Linked DNA regions of Homo sapiens: region 2 is linked to region 1. The links come from fine-mapping of genetic effects on plasma protein levels. Region 1 holds a variant in brackets. A gene starts in the other region. All regions are shown on their forward strands. Region 1 overlaps ASXL1 (ASXL transcriptional regulator 1). Region 2 holds the start of CCL25 (C-C motif chemokine ligand 25).

What was found. A credible set is the group of variants that fine-mapping cannot tell apart. PIP is the posterior inclusion probability: the model's chance that the variant is causal. Protein levels are from antibody-based Olink assays in UK Biobank. Linkage for the fine-mapping came from a reference panel and not from the study's own genotypes, which makes the PIPs less certain.
Region 2: CCL25 starts here. The variant in region 1 is the best candidate, but not a certain one, in a credible set for the plasma level of the CCL25 protein (UK Biobank, PIP 0.58).

The regions. Positions count from the first base shown.
Region 1 is chr20:32,397,886-32,402,276 of GRCh38, forward strand. All of the region lies in intron 4 of ASXL1 (ASXL transcriptional regulator 1), which reads left to right. Among named protein-coding and RNA genes, the nearest start is that of ASXL1, 42 kb to the left of the region's middle. The variant T/TA (reference allele first, on the strand shown) is at 2,217.
Region 2 is chr19:8,050,250-8,054,640 of GRCh38, forward strand. It overlaps CCL25 (C-C motif chemokine ligand 25), which reads left to right and starts at 2,511. Exons shown (of 6, transcript NM_005624.4): 1 at 2,511-2,573; 2 at 2,751-2,873. The coding sequence starts at 2,801. RefSeq lists silencers at 64-153, 454-513.

The DNA.
Region 1 (4,391 bases):
TCTTTGCATTTCATCAGTTTTTCCACTGTTATCTTTCTGTTACAGTACACGGTCAGAATACCACATTGCATTTAGTTGTCATGTTTCCTTAGATGTGAAACAAATTTACCAATTGTAGTAGGGTATTTACGTATAGATCGGTTCGTTTGTAGCCTTATAGTATCTAGTTAAAACACTGTTATAAAGTTATTGTTATGTATCCTTTTGGGTGTGGTTTCTTTCCTTAGAAAAATACATTTAAAATTCATTCATGTTGTTAAATGAATCAATAGGTTGTTTCTCTTTTAAAAATTGAGATGAAATTCACATAACAAAATTAACCATTTTATTTTTTTAATTTTATATATATTTTCTGAGATGGAGTCTCACTCTGTAGCCCAGGCTGGAGTGCAGTGACGCGATCTCGGCTCACTGCAACATCTGCCTCCTGGGTTCAAGCGATTCTCAGCCTTAACCATTTTAAAGTGCACAGTTAAGTGGCATTTAGTACATTCACAGTGTTGGGTAACCATCTTTATCTGGTTCCAAAACATTTTTTTTTCTTTGAAAGAAAACCCCGTATTTATTAAGCATTTTTCTCTCTGTCCTTTTCCCTTCACTCGCTTCTGGCAAACACCAGTCTGCTCTGTTTCTGTGGATTTACCTGTTCTGGATATTTTATACAAATGGAATCATAGCGTATGTAGCCTTTTGTGGCTGGTTTTGTTTTTTTTGTTTGTTTTTTTTTTTGTTTTTTTTTTTTGAGACGGAGTCTTGCTCTGTCGCCCAGGCTGGAGTGCAGTGGCGGGATCTCGGCTCACTGCAAGCTCCACCTGCCGGGTTCACGCCATTCTCCTGCCTCAGCCTCCCAAGTAGCTGGGACTACAGGCGCCCGCCACTACGCCCGGCTCATTTTTTGTATTTTTAGTAGAGACGGGGTTTCACCGTTTTAGCTGGGATGGTCTCGATCTCCTGACCTCGTGATCCGCCCGCCTCGGCCTCCCAAAGTGCTGGGATTACAGGCGTGAGCCACCGCGCCCGGCCTGGTTTTGTTTTAGTAAGATACTTTTGCTGGATTAAGAATAAGGTTGGGCCAGGGGTGGTGGCTCATGCCTATAATCCCAGCACTTTGGGAGGCCGAGTTGGCCCAGCCTGGCCAACACAGTGAAACCCCATCTTTACTAAAAATACAAAAATTAGTCAGGCATGGTGGCGGGTACCTTGTAATCCCAGCTACTTGGAAGGCTGAGGCAGGAGGATTGCTTGAACCCGGGAAGCGGAGTTTGCAGTTAGCCAAGATCATGCCACTGCACTCTAGCCTGGGCGACAAGAGCAAGACTCGTTTCAAAGAAAAAAAAAAGAATACGTAGTTGACAGGTTTTTTTTTCTTTCAATACTTTAAAGATGATATACCACTGTCTTGTCACTCACCTTGTTTCTAACAAGAAATCTGCTATCTTTGTTCTGTATTTTGCATGCTTTTTTTTTCCTTGCTGCTTTTATTATTTTCTCTTTATTACTGGTTTTGAGCATTAGATTATGATATGCCAGTATGGTTTTTCTTGTGTTTATTGTGCTTGTGGTTCATTGATGTTCTTGGATATGTCGGTTTATAGCTTTCTTCAGGTTTCGGATTTTTTTTTTTTTTGGCCATTTTTTTCAAATTATTTTCCATTTAATTTCTCTTTTCTTTTTAGTCAGGTACTCTTTATCCAAACATTAGGCTGCTTGAAGTTGCCCCATAGCTTACTGATAGTTTTTGTTTTAACCTGTGTTTTATTTGAAAGATTCTATTTCTGTGCCTTTGAATTTACTTTCTTTTGCAGTGTGTAATCTGAAGTTAGTCACATTTAGCATTTTTAAAAATCTCACATATTTTACTCTTTTTTTTTTTTTTTTTTTTTTTTTTTTTTTAAAGACTGAGTCTCACTCTGTTGCCTGGGCTGGGGTGCAGTGGCACAATTTCAGCTCACTACAACCTCCGCCTCCTGGTTTCAAGCGATCCTCCCACCTCAGCCTCCCGAGTAGCTGGGACTACAGGCACCCGCCACTACGCCTGGCTCATTTTTGTATTTGTAGTAGAGACGGGGTTTCGCCATGTTGGCCAGGCTGGTCTTGAACTCCTGACCTCAAGTGATCTGCTTGCCTCAGCCTCCCAAATTGATGGGATTACAGGTGTGAGCCACCATGCCCGGCCATATTTTACCTTTTTTTATCGTTAGAATTTTGATTTGGTT[T/TA]AAAAAAAAATCTTTCCTGTCTCTACTTAAGTTTTTGAATATATGAAATGCAGATATAACTCTTATAATGTCCTTGTGTACTCATTCTAACATCTGTGTCATTTCAGGGTTGGTTGCAATTGACTATTCTCTTTAGTATACTTTTTTTTCCTTGCCTCTTGCCTGGTGATCTTTGATTGGATTTCAGACATAGAGAGTTTTACCTCGTTGGGTGCTGGGGATATTTGTATTTCTACATATGTTCTTTAACTTTGTTATTGGATGCAGTTAAGTCACTTGAAAACCGTTGATTCCTTTAGGTCTTGTTTGTAAGATTTGTTAGCTGGGAACGGTGTAGTAGTTGGTTTATGGCTAATTCTTCCTCACTTCTGAGACAAGATTCTTCCCAAATCTTGAGGGTTGTCTTGAGATTTCCAGTCTAATAGCTACTTGAGTGGGTAAGGGCAGAGTACTGTTCATAATTCTTTTGGGTGTTGTTTTCCTCTCCTTGCTGCCCATGGTCTTGGGTAGTTTCATCACACTATGGGCCACTCAGTACTCAGTGAGTACCTCTCTAGATCTCCTCAGCCCTCTACTGTGTGGTATTGTCCCATGAATTCTAGCTGCCTAAGTCCTGCACTCTGAGCTGAGCTCGCTGTCTTCAATTTTGAGTTCTGCAGCCTCCATAGGGCTTCTGCTTCTGCATGGTGCCCAGGAAACTCTCTTCAGGCACTAAGTTTGGCCATCATAGGACTCATATCTTTGTTTCTCTTCCTTTGGGGATTACTGTCTCTCATTGCCTGCTGCGCAGCATCTTGAAAGCTATAGTTTCATGTTTTGTTAGTTATTTTAGTGGTTTAAGGTGAGAGGGTAAATCTGGTCCCTGTTGTGCTTGAAAAGTTTTTTTCAACTTTTCTTTTAGAAATAATTTTAGGTTTACTAAAAGCTGCAGAAATAATACAGAGTTCTGAGGTGTCTTTCACCCACTTCCCCCATGATAACATTTTACATAACCATAGTATAGTTATTAAAACTAGGAAATTGACATTGGTATAATAGTGTTAACTAAACCTCATGCCTTATTTCATATTTTCACATGAACTATTTTGAGCTGGCATGGTTAATATACAGTTCTATGAAGTTTTATCACGTGTATAGATTTCGTGTAATTATCACTAGTCAGGTTATAGAAGTATTCCATCATTTTAATGAAATGCCTTTGTACTACTCCTGTGTAGTCATCATGTCCTCCTTCCAGCCTCCACCACCAATCAACCAACCAACTTTAATCCTGGCAGCTACCAGTTGTCTGAATTTTATCACTTTCGCTATAATTTTATCTTTCTCAGAATGTCATAATACAGTAGTCCCCGTTATCTGTGGTGATATGTTCTAAGACCCCCAGTGGATGCCTGAAACCAGCTATAGTACTGAACCATATATGTGTGTGTGTGTGTGTGTGTGTTTTTTCCCCCCCCCCCTTTTTTTTTTTGAGACGGAGTCTCACTCTCGTCACCCAGACTAGGGTGCAGTGGTGTGATCTTGGCTCACTGCAATCTGCACCTCACAGGTTCAAGCGATTCTTCTGCCTCAGCCTCCTGGGTAACTGGGATTACAGGTTCGTGTTACCACGCAGGCTAATTTTTTGTATTTTTAGTTGAGGTGGGGTTTCACCATGTTGGCCAGGCTGGTCTCGAACTCCTGACCTCAAGTGATCCACCCACCTTAGCCTCCCAAAGTGCTGGGATTACAGGCGTGAGCCACTGCACCTGGCCTACTATACATATACGCCTATGATGAAATTTAATTTATAAATTAGGCACAGTAAGAGATTAACAATAATAAAAAATTATAACAATATACTATAATAAAAGTTATGTGAATGTTGTTTCTCTCTCAAAATACTGTAATATTTTCAGGCTGCAGTTGACCATGCGTAGCTGAAAGCAAGGGTAAGTGGTGACTACTGTAAATAGAATCATATAATATGTTACCTTTGAGATTGGCTTTTCTTTTTTAACTCGGCAAAATGCCTTTGAAATCGATCCAAGTCCTATGTATTAACACTGTTTCTTTTTATTGGTGAGTAGTATTCTATTCTTGGGCACACTACAGTTTACCCATTCTTCCATTGAGAGCATTTCTCCCCCCTAAATTACAAACAGAGATGGAGTCTTGCTTTGTGGTTGGTCTCCA
Region 2 (4,391 bases), not on the chromosome of region 1:
AGGGCCCCCTTACTGGGAACCCTTCCTCCCCGTGAAGGCTGCCGGCGGGACAAACAGTGAGGGGTGAGGCAGGGAGGGAGACTCACGTTGGGGACCTCCCCCAAGTCTGGGTAACACCGTCTTGGCCGCGGCCCGCGGGTTGGGAAGGTAGGGGGCAGTGAGCCGTAGCGGAGAGGCTGGCCCCAGCCCGCCACGCCGCTTCCCCACGCTCGCAGCCACGCGGAGCCGCGTCCTGGTCCAGCCTCACCCACCCAGAGCAAGAGGCGGAGGAACTGGAACAGCGCCCCGGCCCGTGGGCTGCCACTGGCCGCAGCAACGGGACGGGTGAGAGCACCTGCCCCCGACGCGTCTTAACTGCTCTGGTGGGGCGGGGCTGACCGTGCAAGCCCCGCCCCAGTCTAAGCCCCTCCTACAAAGCCCGGCCCCTTACCATAAGCGCCATCTGTCAGGCTCCGCCCACTGTCTTAAATCCCACTCACTCTGCCCTGCCCCTGACTCGGAGCCATATAGCAAGCCCCGCCCATAGCCATAAGCCACGCCCACCCAGCCCTGCCCCTGGGCTCTAAGTGTCATTTATCTAGTCACGTCCCCGGCTAGAAGCCACACCCACCAGGCCCGGCCCCACCTCTAAGCCCCACTCACCCGGCCATGTGGTTTGGGACAGGGAAGTAGGCTAGGGGCCGCCGCCTCTGGGCTCCCAGTGGAAGGGGAGAAATGAGAAAGGAGTTTAGGATGTGATAAATACCCACAGAGGTCAGATGTAGCTATGGATGCAGGCGATAAAAAGTTTAAAGCAATCAGCTGTGCGGCCTCTGCAGCGCTCCTTTCGCCCTCCCTAATCTTCACCTCGTGTCTCCCCCAGTCCCTGTGTCCTGGCTGGGTCCTGCTGCCCCAGGGAAAGAAGACATGCCTTCTCCCATCCTGGCTAACATGGTGAAACCCCGTCTCTACTAAAAATACAAAAAATTAGCCAGGCGTGGTGGCGGGAGCCTGTAGTCCCAGCTACTCGGGAGGCTGAGGCAGGAGAATGGCGTGAACCCGGGAGACGGAGCTTGCAGTGAGCCGAGACAGCGCCACCGCACTCCAGCCTGGGCAAAAGAGCAAGACTCCGTCTCAGAAGAAAAAAAAAAAAGACATGCCTTCTCGGTGAATGTTGCTTTGCTTCCTGAGGGCATGGCTACCCGGGGCTCCTGGCTTTTCTTCCAAAAACAAAACATTTCTTCCATTTTTTCTTTTTCTTTTGTTTTTTTTTTTTTTTTTTTTTTTGAGACAGAGTTTCACTCTTGTCGCCCAGGCTGGAATGCAGTGGCCCAATCTCGGCTCACTGCAACCTCCGCCTCCCGGGTTCAAGCGATTCTCCTGCCTCAGCCTCCTGAGTAGCTGGAATTACAGGTGCCCCCCCACCACACTCGGCTAATTTTTGTAATTTTAGTAGAGATGGGGTTTTGCCATGTTGGCCAGGCTGGTCTCGAACTCCTGACCTCAGAGGATCCGCCTGCCTCGGCCTCCCAAAGTGCTGGTATTACAGGTGTGAGCCACTGTGTCCGGCCACCGTTTTTTTTTCCATTTTTTGAGACAGGGTCTTGCTCTGTTGCCCAGGCTGGAGTGCAGTGGCATGATCACAGCTCACTGCAGCCTCAACCTCCAAGGCTCAAGCAATCCTCACACCTCAGCCTCCTGAGTGGCTGGGACTACAGGTATGCACTACTACGTCAGGCTAATTTTTTAAAAAATTTTTGTAGTGACGCAGGTCTCTCTATATTGCCCGGGGTGGTCTTGAGCTCCTGGGCTCAAGCAATCCTCTGGCCTCGGCCTCCCAAAGTGTTGGGCTTACAGACATGAGCCACCATGCCTGGCCTAGAGAGTTTCTTTCTTGTTGGGGTTGTTCACCGGTGGGAGGTGCACCATTGTGCCGTGCTGACTATATTCATAGAGTTATGTAACCATCACTCTCATCTAATTTCAGAACAAAAGGAAACCCATACCCTCTCACAGTCAGTCCTTCATTCTCCCCTCCCCCCATCCTGTGGCCACCGCTAATTTACTTTCTGTTTCTATGGATTTGCCTGTGATCACAACCAGAGGATTTCTGTGACATGCTAAGTTACCTAACCATGGTGTGGAAGGAGAGGGAAATGGAGTGAAGTTGGGGACCCACCAGGGAACAGGTGGCTTGAGGGCGGGGGGAGCATGAAGGTAAGGGCTTGTTTGGGGGCTCAAGGCAGTCTGAGCCTTGTTCGCAGGCAGCCAGTGTCCACCAGGTGTGTGCAGGTGAGGGAAACAGGGGAAAAGGCCCTTTCTGGAGACAGTAGGGGTGCTGGCTGGGAGGCCTGGGATGGGGAGTGGGGAGGCAAGGGGGCCTGTGGGTCGAGGTTGGAGCTTGCTGTAGAAGAGGGAGAATTCCAGAGGCTGAGAGTGCAGGTGGAGAGGAGGAGGAAGGGAGGAGGGCGGGCAGGGGGTGGCTGGGTGGGGCTCTGTCTATAAAGAGTGAAGCTCAGCGTGTTGGTCCTGCAGATGGGACAGCTTGGCCTACAGCCCGGCGGGCATCAGCTCCCTTGACCCAGTGGATATCGGTGAGTCTTTTCCTTGAACATGACTGAGATGAACAGCTTTTCCCTCCAGCACAACTTGTTCCTACTTTATACAACCTCCTTCCCTTGCCATATGCCTGGGGCTTAAGAGGGGGGATGTTCCCAGTACCCACTCCCCTCCTCTTCCTCAGTCCTTACCACTTCCCTCCACGACCCCAGGTGGCCCCGTTATTCGTCCAGGTGCCCAGGGAGGAGGACCCGCCTGCAGCATGAACCTGTGGCTCCTGGCCTGCCTGGTGGCCGGCTTCCTGGGAGCCTGGGCCCCCGCTGTCCACACCCAAGGTACTGTGTTCGGCAATGCCTACCACCAAGTGCCCCTCTCCCCATGCCCCCACCCCACCCCTTTTGTCTCTTATCTCCTCCGGAAGTCTCCCCAATCCCATCTCCACTGAATTCTCCCGCTCCTGACATGCAGGAACTCCTGGTGTTTGGTTAGCTCTTGGGATGGGGTCGGGGAGATGGAGAGTCCCCAGTTCCTTCTTCGAGAGCCCCATGGAGTCTTTTGCAAGACTCCTAAAGATGTGAGGGAGCAGAGGGTGGCTTCCAGCTGTGGGCAAAGCCAGTTACTGCCAGGGATGTATTGTAGAATCCTAATCCTGCCGAGCCAGGGGTGGGGTTGGAGATCAGGGCCCTGGAGACTGACAAGAGTGGATTCCCATCCTGGTCCCTCCATGCAGTCCAGCTGAGAGTTAGTTGCTCCTAAACCATTTTTTTTTTTTTTTTTTTGAGACAGAGTCTCACTCTGTCACCCTGGCTGGAGTGCAGTGGCGCGATCTTGGCTCACTGCAACCTCCGCCTCCTGGGCTCAAGCGATCCTTCTGCCTCAGCCTCCCAAGTAGCTGGGACTACAGGCGTGTGTACCATGCCCGGCTAATTTTTGTATTTTTTAGTAGAGATGGGGTTTCACTATGTTGGCCAGAGTAGTCTCGATCTCCTGATCTCAGGCGATCCGCCTGCCTCAGCCTCCCAAAGTGCTAGGATTACAGGTTTGAGCCACTGTGCCCGGCTTCCTAAACCTTTAGGAGCCTCCGTTTCCTCAGCTGCAAAGTGGGAATCTAAAATTCCCACTGCATGGCTCTGACTTGAGGGTCCAGTGAGCTCATGCCTGCAAAAGACTAGGCCTCATGTCTGGCGGCGGCAATAGTAACTGTTCCTGTTATTAATAGGGAACTCTTTCCTTCTTCCCCACTCCCTACCGCAGAGCAAGCACTTGAGGATTTCAGTCGCCAAAGGACAATTCCTGGGCCTGGGGTGTCCCCACGGGAGCCCTGACACTGGGTCCTACATCCTCTGAGTTTCAGCAGCTGGCCAAAGCAGGGTCCCTGGCTGGGCGGCAGACCCAGGGTCCCACCCTCCTTCCCTGTCTGCCCCCACCTGACCCACCTGCCCCTCGGCTGGGTCTGATGGGTCCAAGTCCTTGGCCTTTGCCTGGGAAGGGGGTTGGGCTGTGGTCTGATTGTTTTGCTATCAGAGCCAGGCCCAGCCCAGCCCTTCGATCCTGGCCTCCAGCCTTGGGAACTACCTGCCTGGCACTGCAGTCCGAGGTTCCAACAGAATGCGCTGCCCCTTGCCCTCAGAGGCCGCGGTTGGGAGACACCTGGAGGGCTCGAGTCCTCCCTTTCCCTGCTCCTGCTGGGCTGGGCTCTGCAGGGACTCAGACTCGGCCTCTGGAGGTTAGTTCTGGCAGAGGTGAGATTGCAGAGAACTCCAAAGGCCATTTAGGCAGAGAATTGCACCCCAGCTTCCTCCACTATCTCATCAGCTCATCCTCGGCTCATTCATTCCACCTGCTCATCCCCC